Linked DNA regions of Homo sapiens. The protein of the gene in region 1 purifies or fractionates together with the protein of each later gene. This does not show direct contact. Each region holds a gene or a part of one and is shown in the gene's direction. Other genes may lie near its edges.

Region 1 (8,656 bases):
ACTATTTAAAAGTATATGTGTTCCTCAAACCCCACATTCATTATTGACATTCTTCAGATGAAGGTACCTTGATAAAGCTCCACTGGTTATTTCAGACTGAGCAAATCTCTTTGTCCCCACCTTCACAGTACCCATTCCCCACATCAACCACAACACACACATACTCACGCATTTTGAGAACCACTAGTCCCTCTGGCTTGGGACTTGGATGGTGGCCATTAGCAAAATGATCAAAGGAGTGTTAGGCTTGATGGGTTGGGTAGATTTTTCCTGGCATCTTCAGTTGTAAATTGATCTGGTGTCTCCAAGTAAGACCCTAGTCTTAAATATGTTTAATTATGTCAGAATTGAGCAGAATTGGACAGGATTGGGCTGAATTGGTCTTGTGGCTAGATTTGTGTTGGCCTTGACTTGCTTAATACAGGTTTCCATTGGGCATTTGTACTCTCTGGGCTTGTCAGGACCCTGGACTGTACTGGTCCATTTCCACTGTCATCTGAGTTCTGAGTTGGATTGGCCTGGTCTCTGGTCTAAATGAAACGAACTTTTTGTTCAGCAAGTCTTTGGGTCCTTTTGAGCATCTGAAATGGACGTTTTAGGTTGTTATAAACTATGGATTACTCTTGACTGGATCCTTGGTAAGAATGTGCTCTTCAGAGGCTTGGCTGTGACTTAAGATGCACAGGGATGTTGTGTGGCCTTAGCTGAGCTGGGATGCAAACCAGATTAAACAGGATCTGCCTCTGGGCTGACAATGATATAGGAAATAGGCTGATTTTTTGCAGGGCTCTGAATTGGTCAGAGTTTGATTGGGCCTGTGTTGAATGGGTTTCATCACTGCATTGGAGTAGGTGTTAGCAGGGCTTTGGGATGGGTTTTGGAGTGTCCGTAAATGAGTCAAGGGACTTATTGAACTGAATTTATTTTTAAGGTTGACTTGGTTGGGCTTTGGATAGGGTATCAATGGGATGCTGAGTTCAAAGAGGTTTTGACTGTTTCTAGGCTGAAGTTGTGGCTGGCTTGACCTATAAGATACCATCAGGACATCTTGCTCTAGCCTATGGTTCTGCCCCTGGGCTTAATTTTATTACTGTATCTTTGCTTTCCCTATCACCAAAAGTCAATACTCAGCTGATTCAGATTCTTAAGACACTTTGTTGTTCCAGATGATTAATTGCTTCTGGGAACACTCACTTCACTTTTTGCCTATGGTGGTCCCAGAGACTACAGGATCCTCCAAGATCCTGGAAAACACTGGACCTACCTGACTGACATAAAACTTTATGGAGAGTATCAGATTTTTCCACATTGTGGCAAATATTTCTTCTCTAGGGAAAAAAAATTGTTTTTTACTCAAATTTTTTTGGGGTAGTCTGGGTTACCTGGAACCTTTTCTAAAATGTTAAGAATGCAGACAAATGGCACTTAGTGCCCAGTGAGTTCTTGACAGATTATTAGGACAGTAAACTTTGTGTTTGACAACCGGGGAAAAGGGCTCGCTCACATGTGTTTGAAAGTAGAGGGCAAGTAAGAGAGAGCGAGTTACTAAGAGGCTGATATTGTAGATAGGCAGGGCATATTTAATAATTACTGTCTCAAGGAAGGAAGCCTAGTAAATTCAGGTAGAACAGTGATCAGAGTGCAGGACTAAAGCCTTGAGACAATCAGTCTAGTCAGACAAACTCTCCAATCTTTTGGAAGGCAGGGACCTTGAAATTCCTGGTACCTTTGAATATCTTGGGATTCTTCCTTGTGGCAAATAAAACATTTGAACATTTACAAGTTACCCCTTATCCCCTTATCTTCTTGAAAGAGAGTTTTCTGCTTCCTGGTAACCCAGCACAGTCTAACATTGTTCGCATTACTTTACTGGAATGCTCCTTTGTGACACAGTGACACTTGTGCCAAATCACTGGAGTTTTCTTAGGGCTTATCCTCCTGACTTCCACAGCATATGGCTCTGTTGACTACTTCTTCCTGCAAGAAACTCTTTCCTGCCTAGGCTTCCAGGTTACCCTTCAAATGCTCCCACGTGCATGGTTAATTTTCTCCTGTACTTCTCCAAGTCCAGAAATATCCATCCACAGGCTGAACATCACCATGTATATCGTTCTTCCACTGCCTTGAATTAAAGAAGCAGAAGAGTCCCTTCCAAACCTCATGTATCTATCTTTATAGGCCTTGAAAAGGCTGATCAACCTCTTCCAGAACACTGGAGGCCTTGGAAGGCATTAGGAACCAGGACACTCCCAATCAAGTCAGAACACTGAGAATTACCTCAAGAGGATGGTAACATTTGTGTAGGAAGATCTTGACATTTATATGTCTCTGAGTTGTAAAATCATTCTGGAAAATGCTAGCAGGAACCCACCAAGACTCTCCCCAAGCCGCCTTCTAGCCTGCAGTGACTGACCCACCTCTCCCATTTCTCTACAAGCACTAATTATGAGGCCACTACAGCCTAACAAACAAAGGCAAAAGTTGTTGCCAATTTTTGACACCTGACAACATCCCCCGCTGAGCGAACATGCTGGGATCACAGAAGAGGCTTCATTTACCACTGTTATAGACTATGGACATCTTTGTCGTATTTAAACTCTCCCTGCGAATAACCATATCTCTGCAGCTCAACTTCAAGCTCACTTCTCAAGAATGTTTGGAGAACACCTCCCTACAGTGAGTGAGGCTGGCACAAAGCCCTCTAGGTAGAAGAGGCAGCCTGGAATGTATTTCCTCAGGCTGGAGGGAGAGCAGGGTAGAGGCATTTTAAGATCTAGAGATGGACTTCTTTCTAGAATCCTGGAAGAGAGGCAGAGGCACTGGGACACTCAAATATCTGAATTCCTCTCACTGCCTGTCTGCCCTGGAAAATACCATCTTTGTCCAGAGGAGCCTCTTGATCTTTCTCCCCTTCCCCATAACCTTGTTTCCCACAGAATATCCTCTCTCCTCCCACCCCTGGAAGAACTATGCCCTCATCTATCTTGGATAATGGTGTCTGTAACTTTGAAGAGCTCTATCAGGACACCCCCTGCTTCCTTCCGGGGTAATTTCCTAAACTATTTTGCCTGTAAAGCTCTCAACACATTCCTCTGTCACCTAAACTCTTAACAACTTGAGACGGCCCTGGGGGCATGACGGTGAGAGAAGATATTCTTAATGCTTCCCTGATTCATCTCACCCCTCCACCCGCTTTCCACATTCAAGCTCTTTCCTATTCCTTGCCAATCCCATAAACACTCTCTCCATCACATTGTCATATCCCTTTTCTTCTCTTACCAGCTCCCACCAGTGTTTCTGCTTTCCCTTACCCATCTGATTTCTATAGATTTCCTCACTGTCTTTCAAGTCATCGAGCTGCAGTGGGGTCAGCATGGGTTTTCAATCCTTTGAGGAGAAAGAAGACATGGAAGAGGAAGACTTGGATGGTTAGGGTATTTTAATCTCCCTCCAATTATTTTTTTCCTGAGAGCAATAATTCCCAAAGTATGGGTTTAATACATTTTATCTATGAAACAACAGTTTCATGGTCAAGTAAGTCTGGGAAACACAGTTCAGCAATTTTTTTCCTACAGAAATTCTCAAGGCTTTAATATGATACTAGGCATATATTAGTTATCTTTTATTATATTTAAAATTGCCCCCAAACTTAGAGACTTAAAACACTAATAAAAATTCGCTTATTTCTGTGGATCAGGAATCAGGGAATGGCTTAGCTGGGTAGTTCTTGTTTGGGATCTCTCATGAGGTTGCAGTCAAGATGTCAGACAGGGCTGCAGTCAGCTGAAGGCTTCACAGGATGTCAGGAACCTATGTCCAAGATGGGTCACTCACAATGTTGGCAAAGTGGTGTTGGCTGCCAGCAGGGGTCTCAGTTCCTTACCACACGGACCCCTCCTTGGGGCTGCTTGTGTGTTCTCACGACATGGCAGTGGGCTCTCCTACAGTGAGTGATCCAAGAGAGAAGGGAAAAACCACAACATCTCTCATGGCCTATCCTCAGAAGCCACACACCATCTTCTTAATTACTCACAGGTCAGTCTCACCCAAGGTGGAAGGGGTGTGAATTCCAGGAGGTGAGAAACACTGGGTTCATTTTGGAGGCAGGTCAGTGCTACGCATGACAAATCTTCAAGGCTGATTTGACAACATGATTATTGGTTAGTGGAGCATTCCAAGACACTAAGATTCCATGGTACACATGTTGGGGGAAACCACCATGGACTGTCACATTGGGGTATAAGGGTCTGGGAGGCACACAAGTGGAGGGGAATATGTGTGTCTGGAGGAAGAATCCTGGGAAAACAGTACATGCATATGCACTGAGGGCTCCCAGAGCGGAAGACAATAGGAAGCTAGAACTGGGGTACCACTCGGAACTGGGGCTCAGAGGCTGATTCTCCAATTTAGAGAGGCTAGCACGGAACTTCCCTGCCAATTCCAAACTGCTTGGAGCGTCTCTACTCTTGTAAGCTGTTTACTTCCTCCATCCTAAATCAAAGATAGAGAGAAAATGTCAAAGTTCACAGGCTGAAAAGAAGAACTATTATCATAGAATCCCTAAAAGATGGAGATGGTGGCCATCTAGAAGGCTCAGCTGTTCCATGCCGGGAGCAGCCCTAAGTACCACACTCTGTGGGGTTGTTTGTGATGGTTTCAGACCGGACCCCAACAGTCTCTTTTATGGTCCAGACAGACTAAGACCATGTAAGGTCACTCTGATGACTCATACCACAAAGGTCCCGTTTTTCCCCTACTTCATCTGCACAATGGTTTGTTTGCAAAGGTCCTAGCCTGGGGAGCCGGAGTCACCGTGGTTGGAGGAAACAAATTCTCATCCAATGTTTAGTGACCTTATCAAAAGATGCAGGATAGGGAAGGAAAAGAAGGAATAGAAGGACTACAGAGAATGGAGAGGCGGTCACGGAAAAAGAAAGGGAAAGTGCGTGGGAAGAAGGAAGGAGTAAGAAAACACGCACAGCTCACATGAGAATGGTAAGGACAAGGAAATTTATACGCGAAGCCTGGAAGCGCCCCCGCCCCCGACGCACTCCCGCGGGTCCCACGCGTGCTTTCGCCGCCTTTGTCCACAAGGTGGCAGCCTTTGAACTTTCTTCCCCGTAAGAACGCGAAAGGGGGGCAGAGAGGAAGGAGAGAAGGCAAAGCACTGCCCCCACCAAGAACAATTTGAAACCCCCCCCCCCCCCCATCATATTTAAAATCTGGGACAAAGAACCGTCGGGACGGAACTCCTTCCATTGCAAAAGCTCGGCGCGGCCTCGGGAGCTGCCCGGCGGCCCCGGACCGAGGCAGCCCTCCCCTTTAAAAGAAGCGGAGGACAGGATTGGGATCCTTGAAACCCGAAACCCAGAAACAGCATCGGAGCGGAAACCAGAGGGGAAACCTTGAACTCCTCCAGACAATTGCTTCCGGGGAGTTGCGAGGGAGCGAGGGGGAATAAAGGACCCGCGAGGAAGGGCCCGCGGATGGCGCGTCCCTGAGGGTCGTGGCGAGTTCGCGGAGCGTGGGAAGGAGCGGACCCTGCTCTCCCCGGGCTGCGGGCCATGGCCACGGCGGAGCGGAGAGCCCTCGGCATCGGCTTCCAGTGGCTCTCTTTGGCCACTCTGGTGCTCATCTGCGCCGGGCAAGGGGGACGCAGGGAGGATGGGGGTCCAGCCTGCTACGGCGGATTTGACCTGTACTTCATTTTGGACAAGTAAGTGCCGCGAGTTGTCCCCCCCACCCCAGGCTAAGCGGGCGAAAACGCTTTCGCCCCGGGCCGGGCTCGTTGGCAGGGTCGCCTGGGGACAGGAGCGCATCTCCAGGGCCACAGAGGGACCGCGCGGCAGGCGGCGGCGGAGTGCTGCGCCTTTGTTGGGGCGCGCTCCTCCCAGCCTCGGCTCCAGAGCCCGCAGCCGAGGCGACGCCGCTTGCTCGGAAGGGGACAGACTTCTTTTCTGTCTTGCTTTCTGTGTCCCAGGAGCAGGCAAGGGGCTTGGAGGATGCTATTGTCTTGCTGAGTTTCTGTGACTCCCTCCCGTGTTGGTGGGAAAGGCTTGCTTACCAAAGGCAGAACTTGCAGGCACAGGCACTCCTAAAGTTAGAGGCTTGGGCATTTTAAAGCCAATCGTCGCATTTTGTTTTTGTTTTTGTTTTTTTGTTTTGTTTTGAAACGCTGTCCCACGGAAGGCATTATCTTTGCTCCTAATCATGTAATGCATACTTCTCACCGGGCACTGAGTGAGAATGAAAGGCAGGGTTTCTTAACCTTGGCACTTCTGAGATTGAAACCTGGTAATTCTTTGTGGTGGGGGCTGTCCTGCGCGTTGTAGGATGTTTAGCAGCATCCTTGGCCTCTGCCCACTGGATGCCAGTAACATCCCCCGCCCCCCACTCCTTCCTTATTAGTGGTGACAACTAAAAATGCCTCCAGACATTGCCAAATGTCCCTCCCCTTCGACTTGAGTACCCCAGATGTAGTGAATTCAAGCTCTTGGCCATTTGACTGGTGGGCTACCAGGGAGGTGCAGGAGCCCTGGTTTCCTTGCAAAAAGTGGTTAGGCTTTAGGATTTGCTCAAGGGAGAGCTGAATTCTGACCAATGAAGCACTTCCCAAATCCGCATAAGTTTGCCAAGCCACAGTCACCCAAGGAAGCTTCATGCTATCTGCTGAAAACCAGCTTCAACGATAAAAAGCCCCTCACAGAAGATCCGTGCTCATTAAAACTGAGTGAGCTCTCCAGTGCCAGGAGAGGCGCTTTGCTGTTACAGTGGTGGGGAGATGGATTTCACAGACTGGAAAGTATTTAGGAGTTGGAAAAAGAGTCCTGCAAAATAAGCTGGCTAGCTAGACACCAAATGTGCTTTGCAGTTGCCCCTGGAGTTTGATTTTTCCGTAAAGGCTGTTTTGAACTCCAGATTCTTTGGATGAAAAGTGAGATTTCTTTTCTGCAGATTTATGAGAAGGTGGATACTGAAAATATGCTCCAGTGCTAAGGAATGGAATTTCTTTTGTTACTTCTAGTGGCTGGAAGCATCAGCTCACAGACTTAGAGACAGTGCATGAAAACAGTCGGAGGTGCTCCTCCTCCGTGCTTTTTTAAAAAGCCAATTCAGAATGATATTCAGGAAAATCTAAAAAAAAAAAAAAAGGGGGACAGAATCACCATGTCTCTGAATGGATGACTGTAGAGATACTATAGAGATATGGATACTGTAGAGATAACCAGTTTTCCCCAAATTAATTTAGAAATTGAATTCAACTTTTCAGTCAAAGTTCTGAAAGAGTTTGTTTTGATGATAAGAATTTAACAAAATGATTCTAGGCTTATCTTAGCAAAAAAAAAAAAAACAGGTAAAAAGAGCTGAAACATTTTTGGAAAAGAATAATGAAGCCATATTCTCTCTCCAAATATTAAAATGTATTATAATGTAAATTAATAAAAACAGGATGGTAAAGGCCAAAGAATAGGTGGATAGAGTAGAAAATCTAAAAAGACAAGTACATGTAGATCCAAACACATGTAAACATTTAGTGGAATTTCCAATCAGTATATAATGATTCATTAATTTAAAAAAAAATGGTTCCTGGACAAGTGATTGATAACATGGAGAATGAAAAAGGTTAGATTTATACTTTACAAACCATACACATAAATAAATTTCAGAAAGGTTGAAAATCTAAATATTTAGAATGAAATGATCAAAGAACTAGAAGATAATTTAGATGAATATTACTGTAATCTTAGGTTTAGAGCTTTTAAAACATGATAAGGAAGAAACCATAAAGGAAAATAGAGATTTGAATATATTAAAATTTTACACTTCTATAAATGAAAAATAAGCCATGAAAAAACATAAGAAGTTACAATAACTATTGCCACATAAATCACTCTCTTAAGATTGATTTTCATATATAAAAAGCAGTAAAAGCAAAATCCCAATAGGAAATAGCCTAAGTGCATAATTCACAAGAGAAAAAAATATGAGTCAATAAATGAACTAAAAAGGTCGTTATTAATCAAAGAAATGAAAAAATCAAACAATATGATTTTTATTAGGTTGGCAAAAACTTTTTTAAAAATTACAATATTCAGTATTGGCCAATTTGTGGGAGATAGGCACTGTCATTTCTTACTAGGGAAAATGTAAATTGGTGCAGTCTTTCTAGACTTGCGCTGTCCAGTAGAACTTTCTAGGTCGGTAGAAAAGTTCTATATCTGTGCAGTTCAATACAGTAGCTACTAGCCATATGTGACTCGAGCACTTGAAATGTAGTTAGTGCGATTGAGGAAGTGAATTTTTAATTTTATATAAGTTTAACTAATTTGAACTTTAATAGCCACATGTGGCTACCATACCGGATAGTGCAGACAAGAAGATAATTTGGCGACACATATAAAATGCTTTTAAAAAATGAGGGGTGTTCCTTTCCATCGAGCAATTTCATGTCCTAAAGAAAAAAAATCCAAATAGTCACAAAGAAGTACCTACATGTATGTTTATGGAGGTGCTGTTTATAATAAAAAGCTGAGGATTACATGTGTCTAACAGCAGTGGATTTACTAAGGTATGATATGTGTATAGTATTGAACCTGCATTGCATGTTATACAAGCTTGTAAGCTATTTTAGGAGAAATACATAATTCTTAACATA
Region 2 (7,697 bases), on another chromosome or scaffold:
AAAAATTTTTTTGTTTAATGCCAAGGCAGTGTTTGCTTTTATTCTTATTTTTTAAATTTAATCTTTGAGAGATTCATTGTGTAGTTACCTAATAAAGCTCATTATAAAATAGAGGACATGGTCATTGTAATCCCTAAAGGATCCATCAATGTGTAGTGAAAAGAGAGTTGACTATAAAGTCAAATCATTCTGGATTGTAACCTCAGCTGTGAGATTTAATAGTTGGGTGATTTGGGGCAAGTTATTTGACCTTGCTTTACCCCTGATTTCTTCATTTCTAAAATAAGAGATAACTTCAAAGGGTTAAGAATGTGAAAAGTAAATGAGCTAGTTCTTAATTAAAGTACTTGGCATAAGACCGGATACTTTGTAAGTGATATTTAACATTAGTTGCCTTCCTACATTGTGAAATCACAGTTTTAAAACTCACATTAAAAATACTTTAAACGGTTGTTTTGAATATTATAAACTTGTTAATAAGGAATTATGGTATTCGAGCTTCTTTTTTTTTTGAAACATACTGTTATACTAATTGGGTATAGTCTATCTGAGTTAGAGTTCTTGAATATAACAATTGTAAAGCAATCTGTGACATTACCAATAAATTAAGTCTAAGCGAAGTGCAGTATGTTATATTCACTTAGGATAAAATGTGATACTGTATTTCATAGAACCTTAGAATTTTTGTCTCTGACACCAGGACATTTCATACTATTTAATAATGACTTGGCTAGCCTTGCAAGCTTCTTGAGGCTCAGAAGAATTCTAAGTTTCGTTGGTTTTGGTACTTGTGTTAGTGCTGTGGTTCATACATAGAGTGCCTCAGTTAAAAATTGTTGATGGATTAATTTTTATCTAGTTTAGGAACTTCATTATAGTAGACTTTACAGTCAGCGTATTGGTAATGGTTGCTCTGAGTTTTGTTCAGACAACTACTTAATTTGTGAAAGTCCCCAATATTTGCTAATGATATTATTAAATACTGTCTGTAATGCATGCCAAAATGTATTTTGAAGCCCAAATGCTTCCTCTCGCCATTTGTACTGCAAGGATAGACTGTCTTATCAGTCCAGTAGTGCATCTCTTTACTGGTACTGAATCACTTGAAAAGATACAGTGTTCTTCCTGGGTAAACCCCTCCTGGTATACTTTAATTATTGTGTTCAAAGTGAATTCCCAGAATATGGACACACTAGTTCAAATATAATTATTAGAATATAATTTATTTAAAAGTATAGTTGAATTTTATAATTTTTGATTAACTCCTTTACGTTTCCACTAAGAACTAAAAAACTGACTCTCTTGGTTGCTGTCTAATACCTAGAAAAGCAGAAAGGTTCCAAAATGATGTAGATTTGAACTCTAACTTTTTTTTTTTTTATTTGAGACGGAGTCTCGCTCTGTCGCCCAGGCCGGACTGCGGACTGCAGTGGCGCAATCTCGGCTCACTGCAAGCTCCGCTTCCCGGGTTCACGCCATTCTCCTGCCTCAGCCTCCCGAGTAGCTGGGACTACAGGCGCCCGCCACCGCGCCCGGCTAATTTTTTGTATTTTTTTTTAGTAGAGACGGGGTTTCACCTTGTTAGCCAGGATGGTCTCGATCTCCTGACCTCATGATCCACCCGCCTCGGCCTCCCAAAGTGCTGGGATTACAGGCGTGAGCCACCGCACCCGGCCCTGAACTCTAACTTTTTATTTTCCAGTTTCTTCTGGTTAGGAGTTTTCTCATTTGTTTAATCATTCAGTTAGACAAAATGGACATTGACTGAACATTTATATACCAGATGCTGAATTAACTGCTGGAAGAATAAAAATGAGGAAACTCTTTCCCCCTTTTAAGGGTTTCATTGGAATAGACATAAGGAAATGATTGCAGGTGGAAAAATAAATTAAGTAATCAAACTATATAGGAAACAGAGGTAACCCAATAGTAGCCAGAGGAGAGAATGATTAACTGTCTGGTGGGTAAAAGGATCAGAGAAGTCTCATAGAGGGGTTGACTTCTTAAAAGAATAATGGTGGACATAGTGGAAGGAAATATGTGCTCTCTTGGGAATATACCATACCCTGGGAAGGGGAAAGTTAGGAAGCAGAGGAGCTGCCTAGGGTGCTGCTGATATAATCTGACGGATGATAGAAGACTGGACCATGGCGTTGGCTACAGAAATGAAGTCAAATACATATTAAAATGGAAGAATTATCTAATTTGCTTTCTTCAGATTTCAGACTGATTTTGTAGTCCCCCCACTCTATGCAGTGAATTTTATTTCTTTATTAAAATGTAGAGGCTGCCCATCCAGTGTGAATTCCTCAATTGTCTGCCCAGACTTACTGTCTTTACCCTGATTCAAAGAATAAAGCGTTGCTATTCTTTTCCAAGGGTAACTTGGAAAAACGTTTATGCTTCTAATACTGTTTCCTCAAGATTCTTTGTAGAACTAAGATCTTCTCTTCATTTCTCCCTTACAGTTGGCTCAGTTTTCTCATGTTCAGCAAGCAATTTTTATGTTCTTCACATGGACCAGGTACTATGTTAGGCATGGGCTGAAAGTGGGAGATATGGAATGATAACGACAATATTACAAAAACTTTTTTTTGAAGGCTCTACAGACAGAATAGTTTGTCTTCACTCCACAACTTTATTGCTTAACAAAGTCTTGTAAGCAAAACTCTCCCTCTGTACTGAAAATAATTTCTTAAAAGATGCTAGTAACCTCTTGCAAAATTTATGGGCATTTTTAAGTTCCACATTCTACTATTATACATACTATTACTATAATACTAGTTTTGTGCCAGGCACTGATTTCATTATTTTACTTAATATTCAGCTGTTTTAGCTACACTTATTGTCTCTGTTTTACAGTTGAGAATATAGGCTTTGAAATTTTAAAGGGCTAAAACTCAAACAGGTAACTTAACCAGTGTCACAGGGCTTAGTGAGTGACTGGTATGTGTCTGATAATCATCTCAGAGTTGTGATGTGTAAAACTTTGCACCCCAAAGTGTACCCACTTTTCACATTCTAGGTATTTCCGCCATCCTCTGTTATTCAAGCTAGAGATCTGCTGCTTATCCTCTTTGTTGTATTGCTAAACTCCTCTGATTAGCTTCTGAAATAGCTGTTGAATTCAGTCTCTCCTTCTGTTCCCATTGTCAGTTCATATCCTCATTATGTCATCGTGTGGCAGTAATATCTTCTCACCTTTTTTCACTCGGTCTACTGTATGCCTGCCAGGATTATTTCCCAGAAATCTAGATCTGATCTTGTTGTTCTCTTAAATAAAAAAACAAAACAAAACACATACACACATTTTCTAGGCTAATTTTTGCTCACAGAATACAGTCCACATTTCTTTAGTTTGGCATTCAAGGCCTTTTTTGATTTACTCCCATATGGTTTTCTTCTGTACTATTTTAACCATACACATCTCAATATATCTGCCTCTCTGCATAGTTCACTTCATTACATACAGTCCTTCTCAGAGAGGATTGGGGAGAGTTTGCCAGTCTAAAGCACCAACCCCCATTCCACCTCTTTCTCCGTGGAGACTGTATGCCCCTACTTGAGAATCTTTCAGTCAAAGAAGAATGTTTGCTATTCCTTGAACATGGCATGTAGTTTAATATTCGCTTGACCTTGCGTAGGTATTTCCTTTGCCTTGAATTGCATTTCCAGCACAGTTTATCTATAGAAGTCCTAATTCTTTAAGGTTGAGGTCACATGCCATTTCTGGAGATCTTTCCTTATCCCAGTGGGAATTTATTGCTTCCTTCTCTGCTTTTTTACGTCTTTATTTATTATTTTCTAAATTGCAGTTACCATTGTCTTACTTTAGTTCTTTGTCCAGTTTCTTCCCCCTTCACTAGATCTTTAGCTTCTTGAGGGCAGGAGGCCTGTTTTACCCATTTTTAACATCCGCTTCCCCCAGCATCCATCAGATAATCACTGAGGCATTAATTGACTGGAAGAAGGGAGTGAGAGACATGGGAAAAAGAATAGTACAGTATTAAGGAGATTAGAAGGAAAAGAGTACTTTAAGATTACTGTCCTAAGGGACAATGAAATTGATGGTGCCATAAAATGGAGAAGTCATTTTGGGAAGGATGATAATGAGTTCAGCTTTGCACCTTGAATTTCACGTGATTATATAAATGTGTAAAAGGTGGCAGCAAATACTGGAATGGAGGTTTTAGTTGCCCTGAATTTCTAGTCTGATTGTTCTGTGTGTAAGATGTTGAGAAAAGGGATATAAATGGAAAAAGAGCTGAAGATTTGAATGTATGAAAATAGATAAGATGATGAGGGTGTATATCATAGGGTAGGAATCAATAAGAAGAAAGGAGTCAATAGAAGAGAAGAGAGAAAATTGTGATCTCTTAAGCTAAAACAGTTTGGATATTTGTCCCCACCCAAATCTCATGTTGAATTGTAATCCCCAATGCTGGAGGTGGGGCTTGGTGGGAGGTGTTTGGGCCATGGGAATGGATCCCTGATGGCTTGGTGTTGTTTTTGCAATAGTGAGTTCTGGCAAGATCTGGTTGTTTAAAAGTGTGCACCTACCCTCTTACTCTTTCTCACTCCTACTTTGCCATGTGAGATGCCTACTCCTGCTTCACCTTCCATCTTGAGCAGAAACACCCTGAGGCCTCCCGAGAAGCAGATGCTGGCACCATGCTTCCTGTACAGCCTACAGAACCAATAGCCAATTAAACCTCTTTTAAATTACCCAGGCTCAGATGCTTCTTTATAGCAGTGCAAGAACAGCCTATTACAGAAAATTGGTAAGTGGGCGTGGAGCATTGCTCTAAAGATACCTGAAAATATGGAAGCAGCTTTGAAACTGGGTAACAGGCAGAGGTTGGAAGAGTTTGGAGGACTCAGAAGACAGGAAAATGAGGGAAAGTTTGGAACTTCTTAGAGACTGGTTGAATGGTTGTGACCAAAATGCTGGTAGTGATACGGACAATGAAGTCCATGATGATGAGGTCTCAGGTGGAAATGAAGAACTTAGTAGGAACTGGAGCAAAGGTCACCCTCATTATGCTTTAGCAAAGCACTTGGTTGCATTCTGTTCATTCTGTAGGGACCTGTGGAAGTTTGAACTTGAGAGTGATGACCTCTGGTATCTGGCGGAAGAAATGTCTAAGCAGCAAAGTGTTCAAGATGTGTCCTGGATGCTGCTAACAGCCCATGCTAAGATGTAGGAGCAAAGAAATGACTTAAAGTTGGAATTTGTTTTTAAACAGGAAGCACTGCATAAAGGTTTGGGAAATTTGCAGCCTAGCCATGTGGCAAAGAAAGAAAAAGCTTTTTCAGGGGAGGAATTCAAGCAGGCTATAGAGCAACCACGTGCTAGAGATATTTGCATAATTAAACACATGCCAAAGTGCTGATATCCGTGAAGTTGGAGAAAAGGCCTTCAAGGCATTTTAGAAACCTTCACAGCAGCCCCTCTCATCATAGGCCCAGAGGCCTAGGAAGAAAGAATGGTTTTGTGGGCCTGGGCTAGCCGGGCCTTGCTGCCTTGCACAGCCTCAAGACACTGCTCCCTGCATCCCAGCCACTCAGGCTTCCAGCCTTGTTCAAAGGGGCCCAGGTACAGTTCGGGCTGCTGCTTCAAAGGGTGCAAGCCATAAGACTTGATGGCTTACATGTATTATTAAGCCTGCAGGTGCCCAGAGTGCAAGAACTGAGGCTTGGGAGCCTCTGCCTAGATTTCAGAGGATGTATGAGAAAGCCTGGGTGTCTAGGCAGAAGCCTGCTGCAGGGGTGGAGCCCTCATTGAGGATCTCTATTAGGGTGGGGCCAAGGGGAAATGTGGGGTTGGAGCCCCCCAGAGTCCCCAGTGGGGCACTGCCTAGTGGAGCTGTGAGAAGGGGCCTACCATCCTCCAGACCACAGAATGGTAGATCCACTGGCAGTTTGCATCCTATACCTGGAGAAGCCACAGGCATTCAACTAAAACCTGTGAGAGCATTCCTGGGGGCTAAACCCTGCAAAGCCACAGGGCAGAGTTGCCCAAAGCCTTGGGAGCCCACCCTTTGCAGCAGTGTGCCTTGAATGTGGAACATAGAGTCAAAGGAGATTATTTTGGAGCTTTAAGATTTAATGACTGCCCTGCTGGGTTTTGAACTTGCATGGGGCCTGTAGCCCCTTTCTTTTGGTTGATTTCTCCTTTTTGAAATGGCAATGTTTATCCAATGCCTATATCCTCATTGTATCTTGGGAGTAAATAACTTATTTGTGACTTTACAGCCTCATAAGTGGAAGGGACTTGCCTTGTTTCAGATGAGACTTTGGACTTCAGAGTTAATGCTGGAATGAGTTAAGACTTTGGGAGACTGTTGGGAAGGCATGAGTTTATTTTGCAGTGTGAGAAGGACATGAGATTTGGGAGGGGCCGTGGGCAGAATGATACAGTTTGGATATTTGTCCCCACCCGAATCTCATGTTGAATTGTAATCTCCAATGCTGGAGATGGGGCATGGTGGGAGGTGTTTGGGTCATGGGAGTGGATCCCTCATGGCTTGGTGCTGTCTTCGTGATAGTAGGTTTTCACAACATCTGGTTATTTAAAAGCCTGTGGCTCCTTCCCCCCAGCTCCCTCTTGCTCCCGCTCTGCCATGTGAGATGCCTGCACACGCTTCGTCTTTGCTATGAGTAAAAGCTTCCTGAAGCCATCCCAGAAGCAAGTGCTGGTGCCCTGCTTCCTGTATAGGCTGCAGAAATGATAGCCAATTAAACCTCTTTTCTTATAAATTACCCAGTCTTAGGTGTTTCTTTGTAACAATGCAAGAATGGCCTGATACATAAGCCAGGAGAAGAGTTTTGAATTGAAGGGGCTGCTAGACTGTTGCATTGAAGTTGAAGTCCAGAGAACGAGGTTCTGCTTTAATCTGAGGAAGATATGGCATGCTATTTAACCTCTCTGGCTTCAATTTCCTCACCTCTAAAATGCATACTACTTTATACTTGCAGCACTTTAGCCTCCTACCTTTGTAATTCTCACATATCACTACAGACCTGGAATATTGAAAAGGTTAAAAAGAAAGCATTTGTAGCCTTGTTAAATCACTGTGAGTAGTAGTCCCACAAACAATAATGAATACATGTAGGAGTGGTGGTATTTCATAGCACTTTAAATTTAAATTACAGTCAACTCTCAATTTCCTTTTAAGTGATCCACCTGCAGTGACTTGCTGCCTCCTCCCGCTCCCAGGTCTCAGGCTACCAAGAATAAGACTGCGAAAAGCACAGTGGGGTGAGCGAATGATTTGCTTGCCTGTGTATCTGTGCCTCTGTCACCAAGCTATTAAATACAGTCCATTCTCAATTACCTGCCTTAAAAAGATGAATAATGGTAGAAGAATGCTAAATATATAATCTAAATACTTTATATTGGTGAGAAAATATTTTATGTTCTTTTCTCTCCCACAATAGATTGATGTATATTTTCTTTTACATTTTATTTGAATTATTAGCACAGATTTTTGTTTCCTAAGCAAATACTGTTAGTGGAAGAACATAAACAGGTTAAAATATTTGTTAATCTGTATGAATAATTGAAGTTGACTGTTAATGCTTTTTGGGTCATCTACAGATACTGTTATTTGTGTTTTTTTGTTACAGTGGCCAGGTTAAAGTTGAATGGCTCCTTAAAAATTATATCCATACAACAAATGTAGTTATAAAATTAC

What was found.
Region 2: the proteins of ANTXR1 (region 1) and RICTOR purify together in Homo sapiens (affinity purification with mass spectrometry; 3 studies listed by BioGRID and IntAct, with this or other methods). This does not show direct contact.

What each region holds. Positions count from the first base shown.
Region 1 is NC_000002.12:69,007,936-69,016,591, forward strand, and holds the start of ANTXR1 (anthrax toxin receptor 1 isoform 1 precursor), read left to right. Parts: upstream 1-5,243; 5' UTR 5,244-5,564; coding exon 5,565-5,716; intron 5,717-8,656. UniProt on the Homo sapiens protein: Plays a role in cell attachment and migration. Interacts with extracellular matrix proteins and with the actin cytoskeleton and thereby plays an important role in normal extracellular matrix (ECM) homeostasis.
Region 2 is NC_000005.10:39,064,163-39,071,859, reverse strand, and holds part of RICTOR (rapamycin-insensitive companion of mTOR), read left to right. Parts: intron 1-7,697. UniProt on the Homo sapiens protein: Component of the mechanistic target of rapamycin complex 2 (mTORC2), which transduces signals from growth factors to pathways involved in proliferation, cytoskeletal organization, lipogenesis and anabolic output.